Regions from separate parts of the Homo sapiens genome. Here region 2 is linked to region 1. Evidence: fine-mapped expression QTL. A gene starts in region 1. The other region holds a variant in brackets. All regions are shown on one strand. Distances are between the middles of the regions. Region 1 holds the start of PTCHD1-AS (PTCHD1 and PHEX antisense RNA). Region 2 overlaps PTCHD1-AS (PTCHD1 and PHEX antisense RNA).

What was found. PIP is the estimated chance that this variant, and not a neighbour inherited with it, causes the effect.
Region 2: its variant is fine-mapped to the expression of PTCHD1-AS in sigmoid colon (GTEx, PIP above 0.99). The same link has a PIP of 0.9 or more in cerebellar hemisphere and prefrontal cortex.

What each region holds. Positions count from the first base shown.
Region 1 is chrX:23,286,843-23,299,894 of GRCh38, forward strand. PTCHD1-AS (PTCHD1 and PHEX antisense RNA) reads right to left here and starts at 6,304. Exons shown (of 12, transcript NR_073010.2): 1 at 6,172-6,304.
Region 2 is chrX:22,734,606-22,747,657 of GRCh38, forward strand. PTCHD1-AS (PTCHD1 and PHEX antisense RNA) reads right to left here. Exons shown (of 12, transcript NR_073010.2): 4 at 8,624-8,733. Among named protein-coding and RNA genes, the nearest start is that of DDX53, 260 kb to the right of the region's middle. The variant C/T (reference allele first, on the strand shown) is at 8,623.

The DNA of each region.
Region 1 (13,052 bases):
CATCCCTTTATATTTTACATAGACTCGAAGACCTTCTTTGGATTTGTAGCAGCAGGAAACATTTCCGTTTTCAATATGGGCCTGCCATCTGTCGGAAGGCTAGCTTCTAGAGTACCACGTTTTCTCCACTGCTATTTTCTACCACATGGTTATATTCTCAGTTTTGCTCACAGCACCACATGCAATAATAATTGCTATTTATTGGGTGCCTCTCATGAGCCAGGCACTTTAAATGCAGTCTCTTGAGGTACATATGATTATCCCATTTTATAGATGAAGAACTCAAAGGCTCTGAGAGGTTAGGTAACTTGCCCAAGTTCTTACAGCCGGGAAAGCTGACCTGGAGTTTGAACTGCAATCTGGTTGATACTATACAACAAGGTCCTTTTCTCTCCCCAGTGCTTGTGGTAGTATCATTAAAGGACATTTTGCTTTGAGGTATGTTTAATGCATTTTTTCAGTCCAGCATGTTGTGTTCACGTCACTTCATTTCGCCACAGCCATATAAGCAGAAATTGCTTAGGAACCTGCTGTCCCTGGGCTGGGCTTACATCCAGCTCCACGCTGTACAGGGGGAAGCAGTGCTTCTATTAAATTAATGTGCTCCAACACGAGTGCATCATTCCAGTCACCTGAGAATAGGAAAAGCCTTATCAAGAACTTGCTATTCATTTTAAGCTGCTTTAATCCCCTCTGGTCTGATGCAAATTCATTTCATTAATAATTAACAGTGCTTGGCAGTGCTTTCCCTCAGTCCCAGTTCTTGGTTGGCATTCCACTTTGCTGAACCTGAGAGAAATCAGGGTCAAACCAAGGGAGAAAAGAAAATGAGAGAGCCAGGATCTGGCATTAACCCACCCACCTCGACCCCTATGGAGAAGGCAAGGTAACTATTGAAGCAACAGATATTGGCATTATCTGTGAGTTAGTGTGGATGATCCTTGTAGTTCGTCTTCTTAAATATTACATCTTTAATGAGCTCATCCAAGCTTTGATAGTGTGGCCTTAAACCTTGCTTTTGGGCAGATATTATAGATCAGTGGTTCTCAGCTTTGGCTAGGAATCGGAATCACCTCTAAGACTTGAAAAAATACACATAAAATCTACTAAAGTTGAACACTTACATATCTTATGACCCAGCAATTCCACTCTTAGACTTATGCCCAACAGAAATACACACATATGTGCACCAAATGATACATCAGAACGTTCAAGGAAGCACACAGTAGCCCCAAACTGGAAGCCACCCAAATGCCCATCAACAATGGAATGGAAAAATACATTTGCACACAATGGAATAACATATAGCATAGGATTGAATAGCATACAACTACACACAACAATATAGAATACTCTCACATATATTGTACTGAGAATAAAAGCCATACACAAAGGAGTATATGCTACATGATTCTATCCAAATGAAGAATACAGATATGCAAAACTAACCTACAGGGTTAGATGTCAGGATACTAATTAGTGTTAGGGGGATTAGTGATTGGAAGGGGCTTCTGGGCTGTTGGTTATATTCTGTTTTTCTTGATCTGGGCATTAGTTCTGTGGGTGTGTTCACGTGTAAAAATTCAATCTGTACACTTATCATACATATACACCTTTCTACATGGTTGTTATCCTCTAATTAAAAGCTTAAAATATGTACACATAAACCTATTGCCTCCAGTCCAGTAACCTCCGCACCGCCCCCTCAACACACACGTATATACACACCCACTCACTTCTCCTGGGGAGCCCAATTCAGCAGCCTTGAGGCCCCTATACCCTCTTTTAAGCTGCTCAAATTATTTGATGCTATCAGTGTCATCTCAGTATCCCTAGTTTTCCCTAGCCTTCCAGCATTTGCAATAAACTTCGGTGGTAAAACAATCTAATTCCATTACCATCTGAATGATACTAAAACGTGGGAACTGAAAAAAATCAAATCAGTGTATTGAACAAAAACATAAACAGAATAATGTAAACTGCTCATTTTCAACTTATAAAAAAGAAGCTGAGGAAGAACTTGAACATTTTTGCTACACAGGCTTAATGAGTATGACATCACCTGTCCTTTTTAATAATAATAACTACGAAGTAATAATAGCTAACACATATGCAAGGCACTGCTCTAAGTGATTTACATAAATTAACTCACTTAATCCTCATAACAATTACTTGAAATAGGTATTATTATTATCCCCATTTGGCAAATGAGGAAACTGAGGTATAGAGCGGAGCTAGAAAACCATGATTTCAGATTCTAACAGTATGGCTTCAGAGTTTGTACTCTTAACCACTTCACTATATTCCTGTATATTTTATGCTGCTTAACATACTTTTCCCATTTTAAATGGACTATATTTAATATATTTCAAGTGGTAAGCTAAGTCCACTTGAATATTGGCATCTCAGCTGAAAATTACATGTGAGATGACTGAAATCAATAATACAAGTTTTATGTCAGTTCTTCAAGTGTTGGAAGAAATAGGTCAAACATTTAAAAAAAAAAAAGCCACGACCTAAAGAACATTTCTGTAAGTGTCATCCATTCATTGGCAAACATTGAGTGAGCAGGTGCTATGCTTGTGCAGTGGGTCCAATAGTGACCTCAGTCAAGGGCAAGGTTCAGGCCCCCAAAGACCTCCTCATTCAGCAGACAGACACGGGCCAAACAGCAGAAGAGTGAGTGGAAGTTACACATGTGACCACAGGTCATGAAAGCGTATAAGAAAGGGAAGCTTCCTACTCAAAAAGGTCAGGAAAGGCCTCCCGGAAGAAGTGATGATGGTGTGAAATATGAAGAATGAGTAGGAGGTAAAGGCAAAGGTGAGTGGGGGTGTAGAAAGAGCTGCATATGCATGCGCAAATAACTGTAATGTAAGTCAGAATGAATAAGGACTATAATAAACACACATACAAAAAAGCACAATGGAACTTCAGGACCTTTTTTCCTATTTCATTATTCAAATCACCTGAAATCGTTATACTTTCAGCATGAACCCAGAAACTCTTATATCAGATTCATAGTTGGTCTCACAAGCCTGGAACACAGTAAGATAAAAACCTTGTGGAAAAGGAATTTGAAACAGTACTTTTAACTCAGCATATATTGAAGGATTCAAGACATCAAAGTGAAAAAAGGAAATAATAGTGTTTACCTTTTCTGGAAAAAACGAGCAACAAAGAGGAAAAAAGGAAAAACCCTCAGATGGTGAAATCACCAGTCACAGAAGATATTCTTACAACACTATATAGGTCAGAACTTCCCCACTCCCCACCACCTACCATTGCTGAGGTTAGGCCTACTAGAAAAATAAGAGCACCCTAATAGACCAAAAGACATCATGCAATAGATGAGGAATGTGGTTAAGTACAACTTCTGAGGCTGCCTGATAGGCTCAAAATAAATCCAGGTGCAAAGAATGAATGGTCTTTGCAAATCTAAGCCTGCTCCTCACCACCTCCTGGTATAACTATGATCCAAACTGTTCTCTACTCTCCAATATAAACCAATGGGATCTTTTGAAAATGTACATCTTTCATGGGCTACACCCTCCACCTCCACCCAATAACCCTTCAATGGAACCCATTGCTTGTAAGGTAAAAACATAGCTCCTTAAAGTAGCCTGAGGGTGTTGCCTGGTCTGCTTTCCGCCAACCTCTCCAATCCTATCTTGTACCTTGCTCACTTTTCCTCTATATGTTTCCCCAAAAACAGCCTTCTGGCCGGGCGCAGTGGCTCACGCCTGTAATCCCAGCACTTTGGGGGGCCAAGGCAGGCGGATCACCTAAGGTCAGGAGTTTGAGACCAGCCTGGCCAACATGGCGAAACCTTGTCTGTACTAAAAATACAAAAATTAGCCGGGCGTGGTGGCAGGCACCTGTAATCCCAGCTACTCAGGAGGCTGAGGCATGAGAATCGCTTGAACCCACGAGGCGGAGGTTGCAGTGAGCCGAGATTGCGCCACTGCACTCCAGCATGGGTGACAGAGCGAGACTCCGTCTCAAAAACAAACAAACAAACAAACAAAAACAGCATTCTTTCAGTCCCTCATGTTCACCGTGCTCCATGTTACCTCAGGGTTTTGCACATGCTGCTTCTTCTACCTAGAACTCTCTGCTCAACCTGCCCTCTACCTAGTTGATTCCTACTCAGCCTTTAGCTCTTGGCCCCAATTTCAGACAGGTTATCCCTGGTTCCCTGACTGTGTCAACTCTCCCCATTACAAGCTCAGGTACCTTCCCACCACGGCACCTGCTATAGGTGAAATTTTACATATATTGTCTTGATTATTTGATCAATGTCTCTTAGCTTCTTAAACGCAAGGGTTGGAATTTTGTCTGGTTTTACCGACTTTGTATCCACAGTCCCAGGCACACTTGTTGACTCAAAGTAGGGGCTTCATAAATGTCCATTGTACAAATCAAAGCATTTCATAGAGCTCCTCAATTCCTAGGACTGTCTGGTTAGCATATTACCATATGCTTCCTGGTCACTCTCATAAGCACCATGTATAAAGAAGCATTTTTTAAAAAAAGTACATGTATTATATCCTTGAAAGAGGCATGAAAGAGGGCAAAAAAAGTTGAGGATGATTTGCTACTCTAGACAAGCAGCACATTTCTAATTATCTTGGTTACCTAGGAGTAAAGTATAGTCTCAAGTCTTACAGTAGAAATGAGAAGGAAAGAAATATTTAGCTGCTTAAACCTAATGTTAAGCAAACCATATTCCATCTATAACTAGATGCAGTAGGTTTTTCATTTATTCCCAACATGTTTGATGAATGGTTCACCCTGATAGGAGAAAACGCTAAGTTCCTACTATAAAGGACAATGAAAGGCCAACGAGGTAACATTGGGATTCCAGAAGGCCCTTTACTGCGAATAATTTACATTTTGAGGCTACTGTTTGTTTTTCTCTTTTATAAAATTAAACATAATTATCTGTACTCCATACCTGTCCCATTGGGAGTTTGGAGGAATTAATGAGATGATGTTTGCGGAGTGCTCAGGGCCCCTGGAAACACTATTATTAGAACAGTTAAGTAAAATGTTGCTTATGGTAACCTATGGGGTGACTTCCAGACAAGCAAGGCTGACATCAGAATAAAAAATAGCAAAGTGAAACAAGAAGGACAAAATTACTATTTGGTGATTTTACAGTAATGAAAATCATCCACTTTCTGAATTTCTAACTGCACTCTCCAATCCAGTAGCCACTAGCCCCATATGGCTATTTAATTTAAACCGATGAACTAAATTTTAAATTAAATTAAATTTCTTAAAATTAAAATATAAATAGCCTCATGAGGCCAGTGCTTTCTCCATTGGATAGTTCAGATATAGACTATTTCCATCATCACAGAAAATTCTACTGGACGGCAGTATGAATCTGAGGGGGTCTTTTGACTCTTTGTATCTGAATCCTGTTATTTGACACTTTCAAAGCCTCACCCAGAGTAGGGATTTGGAACTTTATCAGCTAGAAGAGAGATTACTCATCGAGCTGAAGAGAAATTATTCTTCAAAGACAAATGGTTTCCTTTCAAACGCGTTTTGCCTTTTCTATGCTGCCTCCGCCTGGTTAGCACTAAGAATATGTGCAGTGTGGAATGGGTTAAATGTTTCTCTTTTTTCCCTATCTCATATTTCTCAGTGCCCCATCTATATATAAGTGCTGAAGTCTGGGCAGAGAGTAAACCATCTGAGTGACCATGAACACAGATTCATAACTAAAAACCTGCTATATCTGGTTGCCCACAAAATAAGAGACAGGTCATTAATACATTCTCGTTGGGAACAAATCCCCTCTTGTGTGAAATGCTGCTGCATCTCATTTTTCTCTTTATACTATTTTAATCTTGTGGGATTAGGGGGTGGGGTGGGGAACAGAAACGAGCCCAGCGCATTCTAACTTTGTGTGGGTGTCTCCCTGGCTTGGTTACCAAAGAAACCATTATGTTCCATACTATTCAAATAATGGCTCTACTAGCGCCCTAAATACTTTCTTCTTTTCTAACCTGACTGCACTGCAGATTTAGAGCCACCATCTGTTGGCCAGCAAAAGAGAAGGGTTTCTGGAAATGTCACGGCCCTTCCCACACTGTTTGAAGCCTCAGTCTCAAGACTGCAACCTAAGAAGTCTGCTTCTGAAGCCAATTATTTCCTTACCAGGCCCAAGACGCTGTCTCCATGCACCACTGCACTGCCAAACTGCATAAGTGAAAGGTATTTGCAGGCATCCTGTGAGGCTGCCAAGCCTCCTGCCACCCATGCTGCCAGCCTCTTCTCTCGCTGCAGTTGTGAGGGCCTTGCTGCTTCACCCCTGAAGCATGCTGGGGGATCTGGCTGGGATGAGTGCTTCCCTGCCACCCTGGGCCCTGGAGTGAGTCACATCACCATCCCATGGATGCCTATTGCTGATTTACAGAGCAACAAATCCAGCAGCTGGGACCACCTGTTTTCATGGCTGCCAGGATGGGTTGTGCCCTTCAGAGGCTCCCGCGGCAAAGCAGAAGCCGCCAGCCCAGGATGTGATTGCCCCGGGAGAGAGGTGCTGGAAAAGGACCTGGTTTTCACGCTCCACTGCCATTTGCCCTTCCCTACCCAGTCTTTAGATATACAGAGGTACAATGTACTTGGCAAATTCCCTATGAATTCCAGGCAGCCAGGAACTAAGGAATGAGGTGTTCTTGTAAACCTCCAGGTCTCTGCCACAGACGATTCTGAGTTACTCTCCCAAGCAGTGTGGTCACTCTTTCTGAGGTTTTACACAGGAAGTTGAAGGGCTTCCAAATGTCTCCTGTCTGGGCATCTAAGTATAAATCTGGTGAAATTTTGCAGTCTGTTCAACCAAAAGAGTGTTAGTGATTGCAACTTAAGAACCACGGGCTGGGCGTGGTGGCTCACGCCTGTAATCCCAGCACTTTGGGAGGCCAAGGTGGACGGATCATTTGAGGTCAGGAGTTCGAGACCAGCCTGGCCAACATGGTGAAACCCTGTCTCTGCTAAAAATACAAAAAATTAGCTGGGCTTGGTGGCACGTGCCTGTAATCCCAGCTACTCGGGAGGCTGAGGCAGGAGAATCACTTGAACCCTGGAGGCGGAGATTGCAGTGAGCCGAGATTCTGCCACTGCATTTTAGCCTGGGCTACAGAGCAAAACTCTGTCTCAAAAGAAAAAAAAAAGAACAAGGAATTATTCTTAAGATCAGTAGTTGCTTCCATTAAGACCAACATGCATACCACATCTTTTCTAACGCAGTACTTTAAGCCAGGAGTCTCCAAACTTTCGGGGTCAAGCATCCTATTCACATACAACATCTTTGCACGCCTCCAAATACACATATCTCTATTTACAATGTGCATATATATATATAGATATACCTTCTAATATACTACTGTATTATCACATTACAAAACATGCTCCCAAAATTGAAATCTTAAAAGCGTTCAAATGAAAATGCAATATTTTTAAAATTAGGTTTAATTTTGTTTCATTTATTAAAGGCACAAAAGTCACTTTTACTCTCACTGGAAAAATCTGACATTTTTAAGGAGAGAAATATTATCAAACTAGCGCTTTTATTTTTTGATTTAGTTTAATTTAGAGGTATTGTGCTAAATTCAGTTTCTTTTGATACTTGGTTTTTAAAGCTGTGACAGCCCCCACAAAAAGAAAGAGAGAGAGCGAGAGAGATCCCACAAAGACGCATAGATCCAAATGGAACAAGTGAGGTTATTTTACAACCTCATAATACCTGTCATAAAAAACTAATATCTGTATAACTATCTGTGATAACAACATGTGTAAAAAACATATATCTGTATGCTATATGAGATACACACAAATATAAGACATATCTGTATCTACGTATATGTATATCTATGTTTCTGTATAAGTGAATATGTCCCCATTGGGACATACACTAAAAAATTGTTTACGTAAAAATTCAAATTTAACTAGGCCTCCTATACTTTATCTGGCAACCCTAAACTCGTGAAGTTTATTTTTTTCTTATTTTTTTAACCATAAGTAAATATAAATAGGAGTTCTAATATTTTCTTTCTGCATACTTAGCAATGGAGATCATTTCTAAGAAGCTGCCACCAGAGTCCCTGGCCAAACCAGTGTCCTCCTCGAAGAGCTAATACAGCCAAATGCTAATAAGAAACCCCTCTTCACTTAAGTTCCTTAAACCGTCCCCTCCTCAAACCCTCCTTACCCTGTAGTAGCATCGTGCATCAATGCTATGACTGACTGATATAGAACCTTCTTCATTTTTCTGGCCAATACATTTATTCAAGGAAAGGGAAAATTACAGGTAAAGCAGAAAGAGGCTTGAGCCACATGTGTAGGTACATGTGTCAACTCGTCCATCTAGATTCCGCCTCTGGTTTACAGAGGTGGCAGCAGGAGTACTTTACCCTTTTCACCTCTACCACTGGCACCCAAGATCTGCTCAACATTGAAAGAGATCACATGCTAGGAATACAGTGATTATGGCCTAAAGAGTTCTAGAGATGACATGGTTGGAAAACGTGTCTTTGTGCATGTACACTATAAAATTCTGAATGGTAAATTTAACATGACCAGAAAAATGATTTATCACTCATATTTTCCTGCATACTCTGGATAAGACTGTCCAGCATCAACAAAACATGGTAAAAAAAAAAAAACCTCTGAGAGAGTCATTGGAAGACAATACCTGTGGCAGCACGATAGATGATGCCGTATCATGAGTAATGAAGTAGCCAGCATTAAATAAAGGGTTCTAGGGAACCGTAGGGCAAGAAGATCTACGTGATTTCAATACGAACAGTTCCAATAACCCATAGCATTGTGAGTACTATCACCTCTTGCTACCTCTTTCTCATGAAGGGTAGGGGGCAAGGTAATATTATCCAGTGCATTTAACAGTAAAAACAAAACAAAACAAAATAAAACACTAATAGATGGTACCTAGACCTGAACAAGAAGACATGATGGCTGGACGTGACAAAGAATCCTCATGTGCATCGATGTGGCAATAAACACATATGCAAATACTGCATCTCTACCTATTATTCTAAATCTTCATCAATAAAATGTTAAACCTCTCATTGGTACATGAATTTTTGTGATACATTTTTAATTGAACTGCTTACATAAATAGAGGCCCCACACCAAATATTTGCCAGCGGCCTTGCACACCATAGGGGCAGCCCTAGTGCTAAGCTGTGCAACAGTTCTCCTGTGCTGCTCCAATATGCAATTTCACAATAACACATGGTCTCAGGACATTCTCCTGGGCAAGGTCATTTTCATGGTAAGGCCTAACAATTATCGAGTGCCAACTCTGTGTTTGGCACTCTACTCGGGGCTTTACATACATTATCTTGTCTTGTACTTGTATTAAACCAAGAGAAATAATAAATTGCTTTATTTTAAGCCACTAAGTCTCAGAATAGTTTGTTAAGCAGCAATATATTATTGAAAAACAATAAGCTGAGATTTTTTTCGTTGCTCGATTCATTTCCTCTAAACTACTGTGGAGCAGGCAGATCTCAGACTTTTCTATCTCCCTTTCACAACTGCAGAAATTGAGTAGCAGCAAGGAAGGGGAGGAAGATGGACAAGAGCAGGCCAATAGCTTTCCCCTGAGGAGGTGTGAAGGCTGCAGAACCAGAATAAAAGGCCTGTCCTCCCAGATTAGATCCAGGGCCTGACCTCCCAAGCATCTTGCCTCACTAACAACTGGGGGCATTTCTGAAGTAAATGGACAGCCCAGGGATGTGTGACCCTGAAAGCACAACATGTCCAGACCAGGAAAAAAAAAAATGCCTTCCTTTTCCTGGAAGTGGAGATGTCACACCCTATCTGGGGTCATCTGCTCAAGATCTCAGCATCGCTTGCTGCCAGCTCCCTTCAGATAGAGAATGCTGGACACAGCTTTTCTCCCCTTCATCATTTGACCTCTACCAAGACAATCTAGGAAACTCATCATTAGTGCCAGAAGCAGGAAAATGGGAGCCATCTCCTGACAAGTTCACACCAGACAAAATGTTCCAGCTTGACAAGAGACGGGGGAGAATCAGGAACTTTGTCCTCTCTCCTCCTTGTTAATTAGTCCTTGGTTTTGAATTTCAGGGAGAGGTACAAGAGACAGGTAATAAAGAACATACATAAAGCATATGGTATGTTAGATCATGATAAGGAACACGGGAAAATATGAAGCAGGAAGAGGGTAAAAGGAGCGCACTTTGGGTAGTGTTTAAATAAGGTGATCAAAGAAGGCCTAGCACACAGCATTTACCAAACTTATCTAATCAAAGAAACTGTCACAGAGCGTGTCACAGAAGTTAGGAAATGCTGTTTCAAAAAGTAGTTTCAGCTAGGGAGGAGAAGCAGATTAATTAGCAATTGTATTAATATTTGGCTACTAGTAAGAAAAATGTAAGTGGTTTACACAAGATAGAAGTTTCTTTTTCATTTGCATAAAAAAAGTGTGGACCAGGCAATCCAGGGATGCAGGACACCTCCATGTTGTCATCAGGGACTTGAGTTCCTTTTACCTTTCTCCCCACCCTGCTGAGTTCTTGGCTTCCATCCTCAAGCTTGCCGCAGCCCAGGATTTATCTTTATCTCCAGCCATCACATGTATGTTCCAAGCAGAACTGTGCCTCTTACAGAGTCTGCTCATAAGTCCCACCCAACATGTTTTGCCTATATCTCATTGGCCACTCTCCAGCTGGAAGGGAGGCTAGGAAGGCACTTTAGCCAGAATATGACCTCTCATAATAAGATTAAGTTAATTAGTCTTAGTCTTGCTAAGTAATTGCTGATGGCAATTAGCAATTTGCCTCGGGAAAGAAGGAGGGTGTAGTGGAAGGGACATCCCTGCGTACCAGAGTGCAGCTTTCTATTTTGACACAGCAGATTGCAAAGCTGCTCACACATCAGTCCTGCAGCTGCACCGTCCATGTTTCTTATGAGAACCTAGGGTTAAAACGTCGTAGAACACAGACCCCAGCAGCAAAATCACTATACTCCCGTCTTCTGGGGCAATGTGCCACCCAGCTCCTGTTTTGTCCATTCACCACATGGCAGCCAGAATGCCATTTTAATAATGTAAAGCCAGTTATGTCACTTTCCTACCTAAAACTCTCATCACACTTGGAATGAAATCCAAACACCACGAGATGGACGCAGCCCATCTTTGACTGCTTCTTCACCACTCCTCCCCTTTGCTCAGGACTCCAGCCACGCTGGCCTTTTTGTTACATGAACACAGCAAGGTCATTCCCACCTTAGAGCTTTTATCTGGAATGTTCTTTCCCACATGGCTGGATCCTTCTTATCATCCAGCTCGCCACTAAAATATCTCACTTCCTCAGCAAGACTTTCTTGACTTACTCCAGCTAATGAAGTTCCGCCCCTACCAGATAGCCCCTAGCACCTCATTTTATTTTCTTCATGAATTTATAACTAGTTCAATTTAACATGCTCACGCATTTTTTCCCTTGTTCATTATCACCATTATTAAGTTCCATGAAGGCAGAAACACTGCTGCTTTTGTTCTCCCCATACCTCCAGCCCACAGTGAATAAAACGTGGAAGGCTTTCAATGCTGTGGAATGAATGATATGGTTTGAAGTGTCCCCATTCTCTTAGTCACTCCTCCCCAAACACCCTTCAGTTTGGTAGACGACATCATAAACAGACTCCAAGAAACACTACCCAATTCCTAGAAGTGCATCATTAACAAAGAGCAGTATTGTGCTCTTGGACATTATGTAATGTCCCCTGTCCTGGCTCAGTGGCTGATTTCGATGTGTTTTTGCATGTGGATTCATGGATCCATTTTGAGAATTTTCAGGAATGGGAGCCCTCAGGTCAGAAATCACTGCCCCATAGAATTCCATGTGATGATGTGGGACCATGAATCAAGGCCCCTACAGCTCAGCAACCCTCAGTCTCCCCAAAACCAATTTGAAATGCCCAAGTATGTACTGGGGACACCTCAAAGCCAAAATGTTTACTACATAACCATTCTTCTAATTTTAATGGTGAGTTTCTGTTTTAAGAAACAATCTAGAAGAGTTCAGACTTTTTATTGCATATTATTCCAATTTAAGGGAGGTAATACAGAGACTACTATGCATTCACAAAGCACCATTTTTTTTTCCTCCTGAGCATACAGCTGGATTACAGTTAGGAGTGGTTATGTCATTGAGTCTAGCCAATGAAATCTGGGCGAAAGCGATCTATACCACATGATGGACAGGGACTGGATCCCTGAAGGACTGAGTGGAATAGAATCACCCACATTCCCTATCTGAGTTAAAATCTGACATGAACAATAAATAAACTCTCATTGTATTAAGCCACTGAGATTTTTGGAATTGTTTGTTATGACACCGATCCTACCTTGACTCATACAGAGGAATAAAATAAAGACCCTGTCATAATAATAATGTTAAATTTTCAAAGAAAAGACAATTCAGCTTCCTGCAATCTCAGCCATTTTGTGCTGTTACAAATTATGTGGTTTTAACATCAGTGGAAGACTAGCAAAAAGCTTGCGGCTTCTTAGATGACATAAACATACTGTATTTGCTTTTCAAGTGCTGGAAATGTTTCTAACTAAAACATGAAAGCAATATTTTAACAGGCTGACTTGGGGAAAATGCTCAACATGAAAAGACCAAAATGTTTTTCAAAAAGGGAAACAACTCAATATGCTCCCAAAACCCTGCCCAGGCTTTAATCAAGGGACATCCAAAGGGAAGCAAAATGGCTGGACTTAGTCTGAAAGTTATGAGAAATTTTCTGGTAAGGGTAGGATACTATTTAGTTATCATTTAATTTAATATTTACTTCTAAAGGTATTTTTTAAATTAAGGAAGCTATCCAAAATCTTTATCCTGGGAACATGCTTTTATCCTTAAAAAAATAAATAAATAAATAAAAATAGCCTCCTTGGGATTCACAGGATCAAACGCAATCACTCTTTTACGTGGCCACACTTTACCTATTTCTTGCTAACATGGCATATTCAGCCCATTATATCT
Region 2 (13,052 bases), 550 kb before region 1:
TGAGAAAAACCAAAGGACCTATGTTTATTAATTAATCACCATGTTTTTACTTTCCTAGAACTTCTATATCTACGCTCCAACTTGTTCCACCCTGCTTTATGCTTTTAGGGATCACATCAAATTAGTTTTCTTGTTCTCTGACATTCAGTTGGGTGGAGCCAATGGAAAAAAACCTACTGGAAATCAACAAGAATGAGTGTGAGGTGAAGATATTTATTTTCCTTGCTCATTTCCTGTTTGACAAAATTAACAGGGGCTCCTTTTCTCTCCTGAAGGCTACTCCTCCTCCATGCCAGTAATCATTCCCTCCTGCTGTATCTTCAGGCCCAAGTGGTGGTAATGGCTCCCCACTGTTGCTAGTCTGGAGACTCTGTTGTGCCTTGTTAGTTCCCCTTCTTAATCCTGCTCATACAATTGCCAGTATGCCCCGTATTAAGCTTTCCTCAGTTTTTCCAGTAGAGCACGCCATCTATTTGCTATGCTGACCCTGAGTCAACCTTATTTTTTTTCACTCTTACTTCTGATTGAACAAACAGATTTTTATCCGTTGTTTTACAACAAAAATTGTGTGTTGATATCCTGTACTGTTTACCAGTTGCTACCAGTGCTATAAAGTGAAAAGAGATGAAGAAAGATAAACAAGGACATATATAGTAGGAAGGACAATTTGCTCTGCTATGGTTTTTAAGCTATATTTAAAGGATATGTGTATGGAGGATATGTATGCGTGGTACTCAAAAGACATCCTGAGAGACTACTGTACAAAGAGATGAGCAAAAATATTTCATATATTTGGCAACAAGCCTTATTTTCAACTATTTCTGGAGTGTCTCCATGTTGATTAGCCTGCTTAGAGCCTCCTATGGGCTGTCTACTCAAGATTTGGCATATGGAGGAAAATCACATGATTGTGCAAGCATTTTGATGAGGTAGAGAGAGCCTAGAGAAAGACAGACCATCTGAACTTGAGAAAAAGCTAATCATATTAAGTGATAAAAGCAAGATATAACAGGAACACTTTTATGCTACTAGGGAAAGTATAAATTGGAAGAACCATTCTGGTAAAATATTTTTATCTAATAAAGTTGAATTTTGAGCACGTCCTGCAACCCAGTAATTGCACTTTAGATTTAGACCCTAAGGAAACACTTGCACATTTTCATTAAGAGATATGGGTGAAAATGTTCATACCACTGTTGTTTTTAATATCCATTGATAGGGAAGTGTTCATACTAATGCTTTTAAACATCCATTGATATGAAACAGATAAATAAAAATGGTATATTTTCAATAGGGAATACCATATAGAAGTGAAATGTTCATATATTTCAAAATGGATGATTCTCATAAACAAAATGTTGAGTGAAAAAAAGTTGCAGAAGATTTCCTAAAGTTCAGTATCATTATTTGAGAGTCACCATGCCAGTGTAGCAAAAATATAAAGAAAATTGACAGAGCAGTCACTCCACATTGAGAAGAGTGTCCACTTTGGGGAGTGGGATAGAGAAGGGGATAGTGTTGGAGAGGGCAATATAGGGTGCCCATGGGGAACTTCAAATGTTGCATCTCTCAAGCATGATTGTGAGTTCAGGGGTATTTATATTACCCTTATTCACATATCTCACGTGTGTATGATATTCTTGTTATATATAAAATAACCAATCATAAAAAGGCAAAAGCAAGATAAACTTATTTGCAGTAAGTCAAACTTCATTTTTATATGCATATATGCATAGAACAGGTTCTGAAAGAATTTAAAATACAATATTTTAGCTCATTGGATCATGAGATCATGGTGATCATTTTCTTATATTTTTCAAATTGTCCATCATAAATAGAAAAGTATACTTTTAAAGAAAAAAGGTATAGCCAGTAATAAGTAGCAAATACTTGAAAAAAACACCAATACCTTCAATCAAGTTCTAGAAAAGTTATTGTATTGAATCTCATTGATATTAGGATTCACTGTAAAGAGGAAATACCAAATAAAAGTTCAGACACATGACTAAAAGGCAAATGAAAGAAGGAAATGTTCCCATGAGCCAATGAGAATGTCAACCTCTTGCAACAATTATGTCATAGGAGAAAAAATGTCAGAAGACCATTATAATAAGAAACTGCTTATAAAGCTGCGGAAGGTGACCTTAATCGTCCAGTCATGTTCAGTTCAAACCATTATTTGGCTTTCAGCTGCTATGTATAGCATCTGTGTGATATAGTCATGTTTAAAGGGGCTGTGGCTGTTCATTTACATTTGCAATCTCTCCTTTAGGCTGTTATTAAGATTTCACAGAGTTTGCAAAACGTCTGTCCCCTGAGACCTTGCAAAATGAGTGGCAAGTAAAAAGACTTTTTGATGCTCAATGTCAGGGAGGACGATTCACCTAGCTGTGCTACAGTCCAGAAACACCAAGACCTGTTATTACAATCCTATTTAATAACAAATATGCCAGTTATTGAACTTATATTAACTCTCTGTATAACTGAAGTATACACAATTGTATTTATTGACATACTGAGAGTGGTGTTTGATAACATCATATTGTTTGAAACAAACAAGGCGGTGCAAGTGTTATTCATTATAACACAATATTCAATACTGATATTTAGATTTGAGTCAGAAAGCATGATTTTAAGACTGATGGGCTCCCTGTCATAAACCTTACCTTGTGTCTTTCAAAAATAAAAAAGTTCTTGGTTAGCGTGACCCCTTTTCTCCATAAGCATACACGTCTTATCTTTCTTTAACCCTCTGTACCATGTATTGTTTCTACTAAAGATGTTAATAAGTGAGATTTCCAGTCATCACTGTTTTTCTGGTAGTTTTAGGTACTATGTATATATCTTTTTTTTTAAACGCACATGGTCTCTTAACTAAAACTCAACCAAACATTATATCATAGCTTGAGACAATGTGAAGCATGCTAGGAAAATTATTTGTGAACTTAATATAATTAATTTTGAAAAAGAAACCTAGAAACATGATAATAGGCTTCATATATGGTTTCATAAAATCATAGAACATCTGGTTTGGAAATGGTCTTAATGGTCGGTTAGTCCAACCATTCACCCCGGGCTTAAATCCCTTCTAAAACACTCCATCTATTAGTCTCTATGTCATCCCTGAACTGCCTGTTCCAGGAAGGAAGAATAGAAGACTTTTGGAAGCATTCCATTTAAAATAGGAGGTACTAATTTATATATCCATCTGTGCATACAAAATATTACTCCATGCATTTACTGCTCCTTATTTTAAATGTGGTATGGCATACATTACTGGGGAAAAAAAATCCTTCCCTAGCTTTCTTACACATATTCCTTTAAAAACTAATTTGACAGATCCTGGAGCTTTCTCTTCTTTGACCCCCAAAATGAAATAGTGTCAAAGAACCTAGTTTCTAGGACACATGCGAGGACCTTAAAAAAATACCTCAAATGAATCATCATTTTCATCTTTTAAATTTATTTTGACTGCTTGTGTTTGGTCCAAGCAAGTCAAGGCAAATAGTCACACAGCTTCTTGCCAAGATTATGTTCTAAATAAGAGAGGATACTTGCAAGAAAGACACACTGGAAAACTCAAACAATCCTAAAAAAGCTGTGTTTTATAAGAAAATCACACAACCACCAGATGATCACCATTAGCTGTTAAGATTTAACAGGACAATTCTAAGTTTCTGTGTCAAAGAAAGTTTCATGGAGAAGTGATTTTAGGGCTCTTTTGCCTCTAGGTACAAAAAGTGCTTGGCAAATCCTAAGGAATAATGCTTTTTTACCCTAAAATTTTAACTTGCAGCAATGCTTGAAATCACCCCATTACAGAATCATAGCTTTGGGGTTTAGAGGTCTCTCAGTTTTCAAGATCCCCTGGCACCAAGCTCCTAACACACACCTATTATGGTGTAAAGCTTTACTGAGGGGGTGACTGGTCTGGAATGAAATGCCCAATAGGCTTTTGACAGATAGCAGGGATCTCAGATACTAGAAGATACAGAAAGGGGAAGAGGGAGATTAAAGATAAACTTCACTCCTTGCTCAGTTTTCCCAGTGCTTATCCTTCCAGTGTATGTTAACTTATTTATTATTACCTTTGGTTTATCCTTAAAGTCTTCTTATAGACCTACCTGAGGCCAGGGCAAAGATAGTCAAACACTTTTGTTGATCCAAATGTATGTAACTATCTTTTTTCAGGGATTATATCTCAGTACTTACATCTTTGGGGATGTCTATATAAAATTTATATCCAATCCTGAGTAGCTTTAAGGAGTTTTTGTTTTCTGTTGCTGTTGTTGTTGTTTGTTTGGTTGGTTGGTTTTTGAAATGGAGTTTTGCTCTGTCACCCAGGCAGGAGTGCAGTGGCGTGATCTTGGCTTACTGCAATCTTTACCTCCCGGGTTCAAGCGATTCTCTTGTCTTAGCCTCCCGAGTAGCTGGAGGTGCCCGCCACCACGCCCAGCTAACGTTTTTGTATTTTTAGTAGAGATGGGGTTTCACCATGTTGGTCAGGCTGGTCTCGAACTCCTGACCTCAGGTGATCCACCTGCCTTGGCCTCCCAAAGTGCTGGGATTACAGGCGTGAGCTGCCACGCCCGGCCAGGAGTTCTTTTTAAATTAGCATTATACTGGGCACATATTAGGTGTTTTATAAAGGTATTTTACTGAGAGTAGCTGGAGAACATTTGTAATGGTAAGAAATAGTTCCATAGTGAGTCATTTACCCAGCTACTTTCCAGTTTGAAGAATTAAGTGGGAGTCATTAAGACTGAATCAATTTCTATATATATATTTTCACTTCTAAATTGGCAAAAGAATCTGAGAGGAAGAACAGACTTCAAAACGACTACGTTAATAGAAACAAATGAGCTGTTTATTTTACACGCAGTTATGAATATTATAAATACATTATTCATCCAGCAGCTGAAAGACTTATGTCACTTAAGTGCTTGGGATGATCAAAAGCAAAGTGGTTTCAATTATTAAAAATGGGGAGGTAGGGAGAAGAAACCAGAAAAAAGACTTACTAAATGATGAAGTGCTGTACTGTCATAATGAAAATATGTAGGCCTTTCTAGGTCATAACATTTTAAGTGAATTTAAACTTGTAAGTGCTAAGAAATAAGTAAAGTAGCAAGTAATTCTATATTGCATAGTTAACAATAATTTACTGTATATTTCAAAATAGCTAGAAAAGAAAATGTGAAGTGTTCTCAACACAAAGAAACGATGAATGTTTGAGGTGATGGGTATCCTAAATACTCTTATTTGATCATTACACATTGTATGCATGTATCAAAATATCACATGTACTCCCTAAATATGTACAATTATTACGTAGCAATACAAATAAAATAATCCAGTAAAATGAGTTGGTTTTTGCCTTCATCATTGTCTTATCTTGGGGTTTCCCAAAAATCAGCATCTGAGACAAAGACTGCCTTGCCTCTGAAGGTTAAGTGTTGCTTTTGGCCTCTACCATTCCGGAATTTCCCTCTTTTCTCCATTGATATTAGGAGGTCCAATTGCATGGCAGCATGTCTTTCTGTCTACCCTAGCCTTCAGAGGACATTTCGTTGATCATTGCCATTTCTTATTGCCTGAGTGAAGGAACTGTCCTATGACCCCTCTGGGGAATACGGTCAGGTGGTGGGTTCACTGTTATCACAAAATAAATCTATTCTAACCTTTTACTTCCTTAAGCCTTCTGCACTGTTCAGGTATTCCTGTATCACCACCTTGTTTACTCCAGGTAATTACTGTACCAAAACTTCAAAAAGCTGGCTGGGTGTGGTGGCTCATGCCTGCAATCTCAGCATTTTGGGAGGCTGAGACGGGCGGATCACTTGAAGCCAGGAGTTCAAGACCAGCAAGGGCAACATGATGAAATGCCATCTCTACCAAAAATACAAAAACTTAGTCGGGTGTGGTGGCGTGCATCTGTGGTCCCAGCTACTTGGGAGGCTGGGGAAGGAGGATCGCTTGAGCTCAGGGGGCAGAGGTTGCAGTGAGCTGAGATCATGCCACTGCACTCCAGCCTGGGTGACAGAGTGAGACCCCATCTCAAAACAAAACAAAACAAAACAAAACAAAACAAAACAAAACAAAAACACTTCAAAAAAAGCCATCTCAGAGTATATTAGAGAAAAATTCAGGTGTCCTTGTCAATACTTTGAACCCCAAATCACAGGTGACTGAATAAATAAAAATATAATAGTGTTGTACTTGTATTCTATTTTTATTCACATAAATATATATTTGTGAATGAAGAATATAAAGGTCATTCATTCTTCGGGAGTAGCCAAATATTATTCTTGGATAAAACATGTAATGTCATTGTTCCCAAACTTGTATTCCATTGTTTTGGTTACATGTAAAACTGGTGTTACTGAATATTGCTTTGGCATTACTGCTACAATTCACGTTTTTGAGAAACAAAAATACAGAAACTTCCCTTCGAAATTACTGTCAGAGTGACGTTGAGGACAATGTGTTTCATATCCTGTAACAAGCTGTTCATCAGGACTCTCAAGAGAAATATCTCTTCATGCTCATATCAGGAAAAGATGGTTTTTTGTGAAACAAAACCTTAAAACATATTACAAAAACAGTCAACCTTGCAAATAATGCAGTTCTTTTTGCTTTGGCTACTGGGAAGCTCAGAGCCAAATCTACATTCTACTTCTAGTGATTTAATGGGATTTTACAGTAGGCATTTCTTAAACTAATTGTATCTTCTGGTTTTATTTTATTAATCCACTCTTATTTCCTTTTCCATTGATCTGTTCAACAATTTGTATTTTATTTATTATTTATCACGCAAGCAACTTCAAGGCCTTATTTATACTTACATAGGCATAAATTAATCTAGTTAAAAACAATTGATGTAGAGAGCTATTGAATGTACTACCTTACATTTTAAATTAAATGAGAGATGAGCTTATTGAAAGTAAGTGATACCGCAGAGGTGGAATGGGAAACTTGAAGAGCAGTTTTACGTTGATGAAGAGTAAGCAGCTCTCAAGTCATTAATCAGTAAAGTATACATTTATTATTTAAAAATTACAGCACTGGTAAAATCAGTAATATGGCATTAGACTGATATTTTGTTGCACTGTTTCAAGTCACAATAAAGTTTCAAAGAAACGAAATACTGATTTTACTTTACATGTCTCATTTTCTGCCTAACTATTTAGGTCAGGGAATTTGTCTTTACTTTTAAAAAGTGTATCCATTAAGAATACTAATACTGAGGCTATAGTCTGAGTTTATTTAATTTGCCAATTGAAATAATTCCATGGAAAACTGTCAAATGTATAATTCTGGCACATAACAGAATTAACCTTATATTACAACAAACAAAACTCATTTTAAAAATCAATGAAACCCATATTACAGCAAAATATAAGGAGATAAATTAAAAATATAAAATATTATTAGAAGAGCTTGCCTAGAAATGACGAGCTCTATTGAAACACTACCGCACAGCCAGTTAGAACATGTTTATGCTTAAGAAACGATGGAAATAATTACTAAAAAGAATGACACAAAGAAATATAAACAAGGATCATAAAGCAGAAGAAGACTGAAAACAATGTGTATATAATTGTCGGAATATCAGAGTGCTCTGAACTTTTAAAATCCTGAATCATCCAACAGGATGATGCAACAATATTCCAATCTTAGAATGGGAGGATTTGACAAAACCTTAGTGTTTATCCCAAGCTAGGGGTTAACTCCCAGGGGAAATTATGAACTAAGTGCAGCAATTAATCATGGTGATGAGTAAAAAAGTACAGTAACATCTCTGTGACCAACTCATGGGAGTGTGGAGAAAGTCCCTTTGGCAGCTGTCTGCCCAGCTAATGGTACTTACTAATTAATGGAGAGGCCAAATCTGAACCTACCCTACAGCCTTGTGCTGAAAGCTGCTTTGTAGCTATTCATATAAATGTAGACTGGTCCAGGTCAAAATACAGTAAAAGTGAGGGCACTTTTTGTCTCTATGTCTCTGGAAGGAATAATAAAAGAAAATTATCAGTGAGTCACATGAGGCTCCATAATCCACGATAGACTAAACAGTAAATGTGGCCTTTTCCTAGATCAGTGTGATTAATTCAAAAGTCAGAACCATCTGTAGCAGTTTTAAGAACAGAAATAAATTTATAAAAAGTAATCATACCTTTTCAATAAAAAGTAATAAGTAATACCTTTTAAATATATCTTTTATCAGCATTTGACTGGTAGCAGCCATTTGAGTGGCTATTTCATGCAAGCATTTATCAGCCATTCCGGAAGAGGTGGGTTGCAGTGGGGGCAGAATTCTGGTAACCAAAGAATCATTTATTAAATGGTTCCATTCTTGATCAGTTTAGCTTGCTTATAGTAATCACATCAATTATTTATGGAGCACTTACCATGTGCTAAGACATGTTTTCATGTGACATTTTTTCACTTAGTTACCATAATCCTGTGAAGTGGGTGCTACCATCCTTCCCATTTTCCACTTGAGGAAACAATGGTTTAGAGTGGATAAGTACAAGCCTGGTGTATAGAAGACAGTCAGAAAGTGGGATTAAAGCGTGGGTTTATCCCCATGGCCCACTTAAACTCTTATGTAGTTACTTA[C/T]ATGGATACTGCCTCTGAAGCCATGTTCAGTCAGTTCTCCAGGGAGCTCCATTCTTGCTCCTTGAAAAGTCTTGGTAGTATGCTAGCTGTTCTATTCCAGAATAGAAGCTTCTGTACTATTCCAAAGAAATAAGACATGATTTACAATTTCATACATGGTAAGGCATACACCTACCTAGTTTCCAAGATAACATCTCCTATATCTTTTTTTCTCCTCCCTTATCCCTTGTCAAACTTGAAAACTCAATTTTAGATCAGAAAAGGACCCTAGAGGCTATCTTGTCTGGCCTTCTGATTATTTTAAAATGGTAAAACCAAGGTCAAAAGAGGTTAAATGATTTCGAGTTGGTCAGTAGGGCTCCCCAGTGTCTGGAGTCCCCATCTAGTGCTTTGTCCCATTATCTTACAGTAGTTTTCATCTCTGCCCCGTATTTTTCCAGGCATCTGATGCAGGAAAGGTATGATGAAAATGATTTTTTTCAGTCTAGTAAAGGAAACTTTACCACTGACATTTGGACTGCTCTCATGGTATAACAGAAACACTGACACAGGCTTTAGCAAGCTTCTCTATCGCAACCACAGGCTGTGACTCTGGACACAAACAGTACAGAAAATTAATCTCAATTCTCTGTTTGAACTAAAAGGAAGAAAGCAAACACATGAACGTGTCAGAATGGGGAGTTAACCTGGAGAAGAAATAAGAAGCCAGATAAAAATAGAAAAGCAAGAAAGAACTTAGGAAATATATAGGGAAATATCAGCAGTATAAATCAGATTAACATGGGACCCCCCCTTGTCATTTTTAGGTTTAACATTTCTGATCTGTCAGACAGTTTTCCTATCGCCATTTCCTTCTGCTTCCCTGCAGCCCTTCTTTCTGACACCACTTGGGAAAATAATCTGTAAACTAATTACTAATTGACATAAGATTAACTAAAAAGAGCAGTCACACACACATATGCACATCCACACATAAACTTGTGCCTATACACTGTATAAGTCATGTAAATAATCACACTGTACCCCATAAATATGTATAGTTATATCATAAAGAATTTTAAAAGCCCCAAACTCCACAATTTTTAGACACTTTAGATGCCTACTATTGTAATACATAATCTTTCTTGCAGTGTTTCACAGGGTTCTACTGGTATTTTGGGTGAAACAATTATTCCTTGGATAGACTATCCACACGTGACATGATCATTATCCCTTCTGCCACCAAATCCCGTTAGTTGCAGTTAGTCATCCTGACAACCAGAAAACACCCTTAGGCATTTCCAAATGCCCCCAGGGTGGGGCAGTACTTTCCTAAGTGAGAAACACTAGGGCTGAGAACAAGACTCTAGGTCCAACTCAGAGGAATTATTAACATAGATTGATATATTTTATTCAAGACATATTTACTGAGTGCTTGCCATGTGTAAGGCCCTATGGTAGCTGGCTGCTAGGTGCTGGGGGGTACATTGGTAAGTCCAAACAAATAAGGATTTTGCTGTAATGGATCATGCAAGATGGTATGAGAGACACATATTGATTAAATCTTCACACACACACACACACATAAATTATAAAGTTCTAATAATAGCAACAAAGAGACACATAGTGTTATTAGAGTCTACAGAGGATAAGTTAGAGAAGATTCCCTGAAAAAGTGATGCTTGAGCTGAGATCTGAAGCATAAGCAGGAGTTTACTTGGTGATGACAAAGGGCAACAACATTGTTGGTAGAGGAAACAGCATGTTCAATGCTGCACCGATGACACAGAGCACGGCATGTAAGAGAGATGAACAGGAGGCCAATGTGGCTACACCTGAGAGAATGAGAGGGAGCTCCCTGTGAGATGAGGCTGTAGACATAAGGAAAAGCCAGTTCACATGTGGCCTTGGAGCCTAGTCAATAAGTAGAATACCCAGGCGTAACTAACCAAGTGAAAGCTGGTAGAAAGCAGAAGGAAGTAGATTACATAAAACATTGATTGATCAGCGGGTGTTGTCTCATGAACCTTTTAATCAAATCAGCTCTCATCTGGATGGAGGTCAAGTTTGCACAGATAAAAAATATCTTCAGTGTGTTGTGATTGTGTAGAATGTACTCACTCAACAAATTTGGTACCATGCAAGGTCCTATGAAAGTTGTAACATGTAAGACTAGATATCTGTTGGGGAACGTTGGGGGAATCTGGTGACAACCTGGAAAGGTCAAGTGTTTCAGGGGAATGAACACTGAAGTTGAAGCTTCAGGAACTGGGTCTTGCTACCAGACTTTCTTGCCTCATGGGAACTCCACCAGTCCCTGATCAGAATTTTCATCCCTAAAACAAGGACAAAAATACCCAAGTTTCTGGGCAAGATTAACTGAACTATCTTAAGGGAGAACATCTAACCCAATATAGAGTACATCCCAAGTGCACAATTCATGGTTTTAACAAAACAAAGTTTCTTCAGCTGTAAAGTAAAGGTCATAATAACTTCTCTGACACTCCAAGGATGTTGTCATCAGGCCAAATGGGAAAAGCTGGTAAAGAAGCACAAGGTATTACTATCATCAATGAATAAATGTGGCATGAATGGCACCCTGAACTTAACATCCCTTGTTTTCTCTGTTGTAGAGGCGAACTGCTCCATTGAATACCCTTTTCCTCTTAGCCCTCAGAAAAATCACGGGTATGGGCAAGAAGAAATGATGATATGCAGTTTTTGATACGATGAAATAAACATTACTGTGATAAGATTTTAAGTGCTATAAATCTACATGTACACAAATTTTCTTTGGACGCGTTGCAGAAAACAAAGTATTGTTTCCAAATAAGCCTATGGACCAACATTTTGTCAAATGTTAGCTAATCATGGTTCTTTTTTAAGCAAATCCAGTTTACAGCAATTTGCAGGGTGTACCAATGCTGGGGATGCTCCGCCTCATATCCCCTCAGCCCACCTTTAAATAAACATGTAGGTGTAGTGAACACTTCCTAGTATGCTGATAACTTTCCACTGCAAGTGCCTGTTTTCACTGCTTCTCCATGCAAGGGCTTTCTCTGCAACTGTGGCAGCTTGCCCAGCCTGCTTGTTGGGAAGCCTAGAAGCCTCTGAAACTTAACCGCCCTAGGGATTACCCGCAACCCATAATGGCTGAGAGTTGGCAGATAAATATTTCATATTACTTTGTTCTCTGATGGAATTATTCTGAAGCACGTTCTACATGGTTGCTCAGAGGGTCCTCAATAGGACTGAGGCCTAGGAGTCCACTGAGATAACCTGCTTATTAAAATTCTTTTAGGGATTTTTCCCTTCTCTGTCTCACTTCCCCTGCCTTCTTGTATGCACTTCTTATAATTAACTACCTGAACCCACTTCTTGTCTCGTGATATACTTTTGGGAGAACCCAAGGTTAGACATAGAATTCCTGGAATTGTTCAGTTCATAATGCACAATTTCCACTTACAATGGCACACTGATGACTACTCTAAAAAAAATGGCCCTGTTCTCTGTAGAAAGAGGAGATACCTACTTTTAAACATCTCTTAAGGGGAAAAGTCTAAAATCAAGGATACATTTCATGGGAGGGTGAGTGTGATCTGTTTAGAATATCAGCATTTAGATTTTAAACTGCATTTGAACATTAGGCCACACTAATGCCCACTAACTTTGGAGGGTCATTTACTTTAAAAGCAACTAGTTGAAAGATTAAGTAATTTAATTTGATAGATGGCTTTGTGCCTGAATGTGCTTTAACACCTTTTGATCCTAATTGCCTATATTGAAGGTGTTAAGTTTGACTTGCTAAATAAAGCCTAGAAGGAGTTAACATTTCATTTGAGTGACCTACAAATGCCCCCCAGCCAAGCCTCTTGGAGTGCTTCTAATGGATGCTAAATTATACAACCCAAGTGATTAGCTATTTTAGATACTGAATTAGTAAGGATGCTAGACCATAAGCTCAATGAAGAAAAGAGCTGTACTTATCTTATTCACCTTTCTACCTTAATATGGTGCCTTGTACTTACTAAGTGTTCAACAAAGTTTTCTTGAATAAATGAACACATGGCAACCTCCATTTAAATGACTTTTATTATTCTCATATGAGTTAAGATGGGAGAAGATTTGGCATTTAAATGGTTGGCAATCTAAGGAGAAAATACTATCACGCATCTATCCTTTATCTTCAGTGTGAAGTTATAAAGTCAGAAAGCTACCCCACTCTTTTCTGGTCCATTTACATATTCATATCTGGGAAGTGAGAAGCAAGAGAAAGTTGAAAGACTGCAAGATGTAAGAGTGATCCCTAAAAGAAACACTTCACCCATACAAATACTTGCTTAAACTCACTATAGTCTGTTCTTTCAGAAGAATCCGCGTGAAGGAATCATGGGACTTCAGGTCAGAATGAATTTTGTAGGATATTCTTTATGCTATGCTAGGGGAAAAAG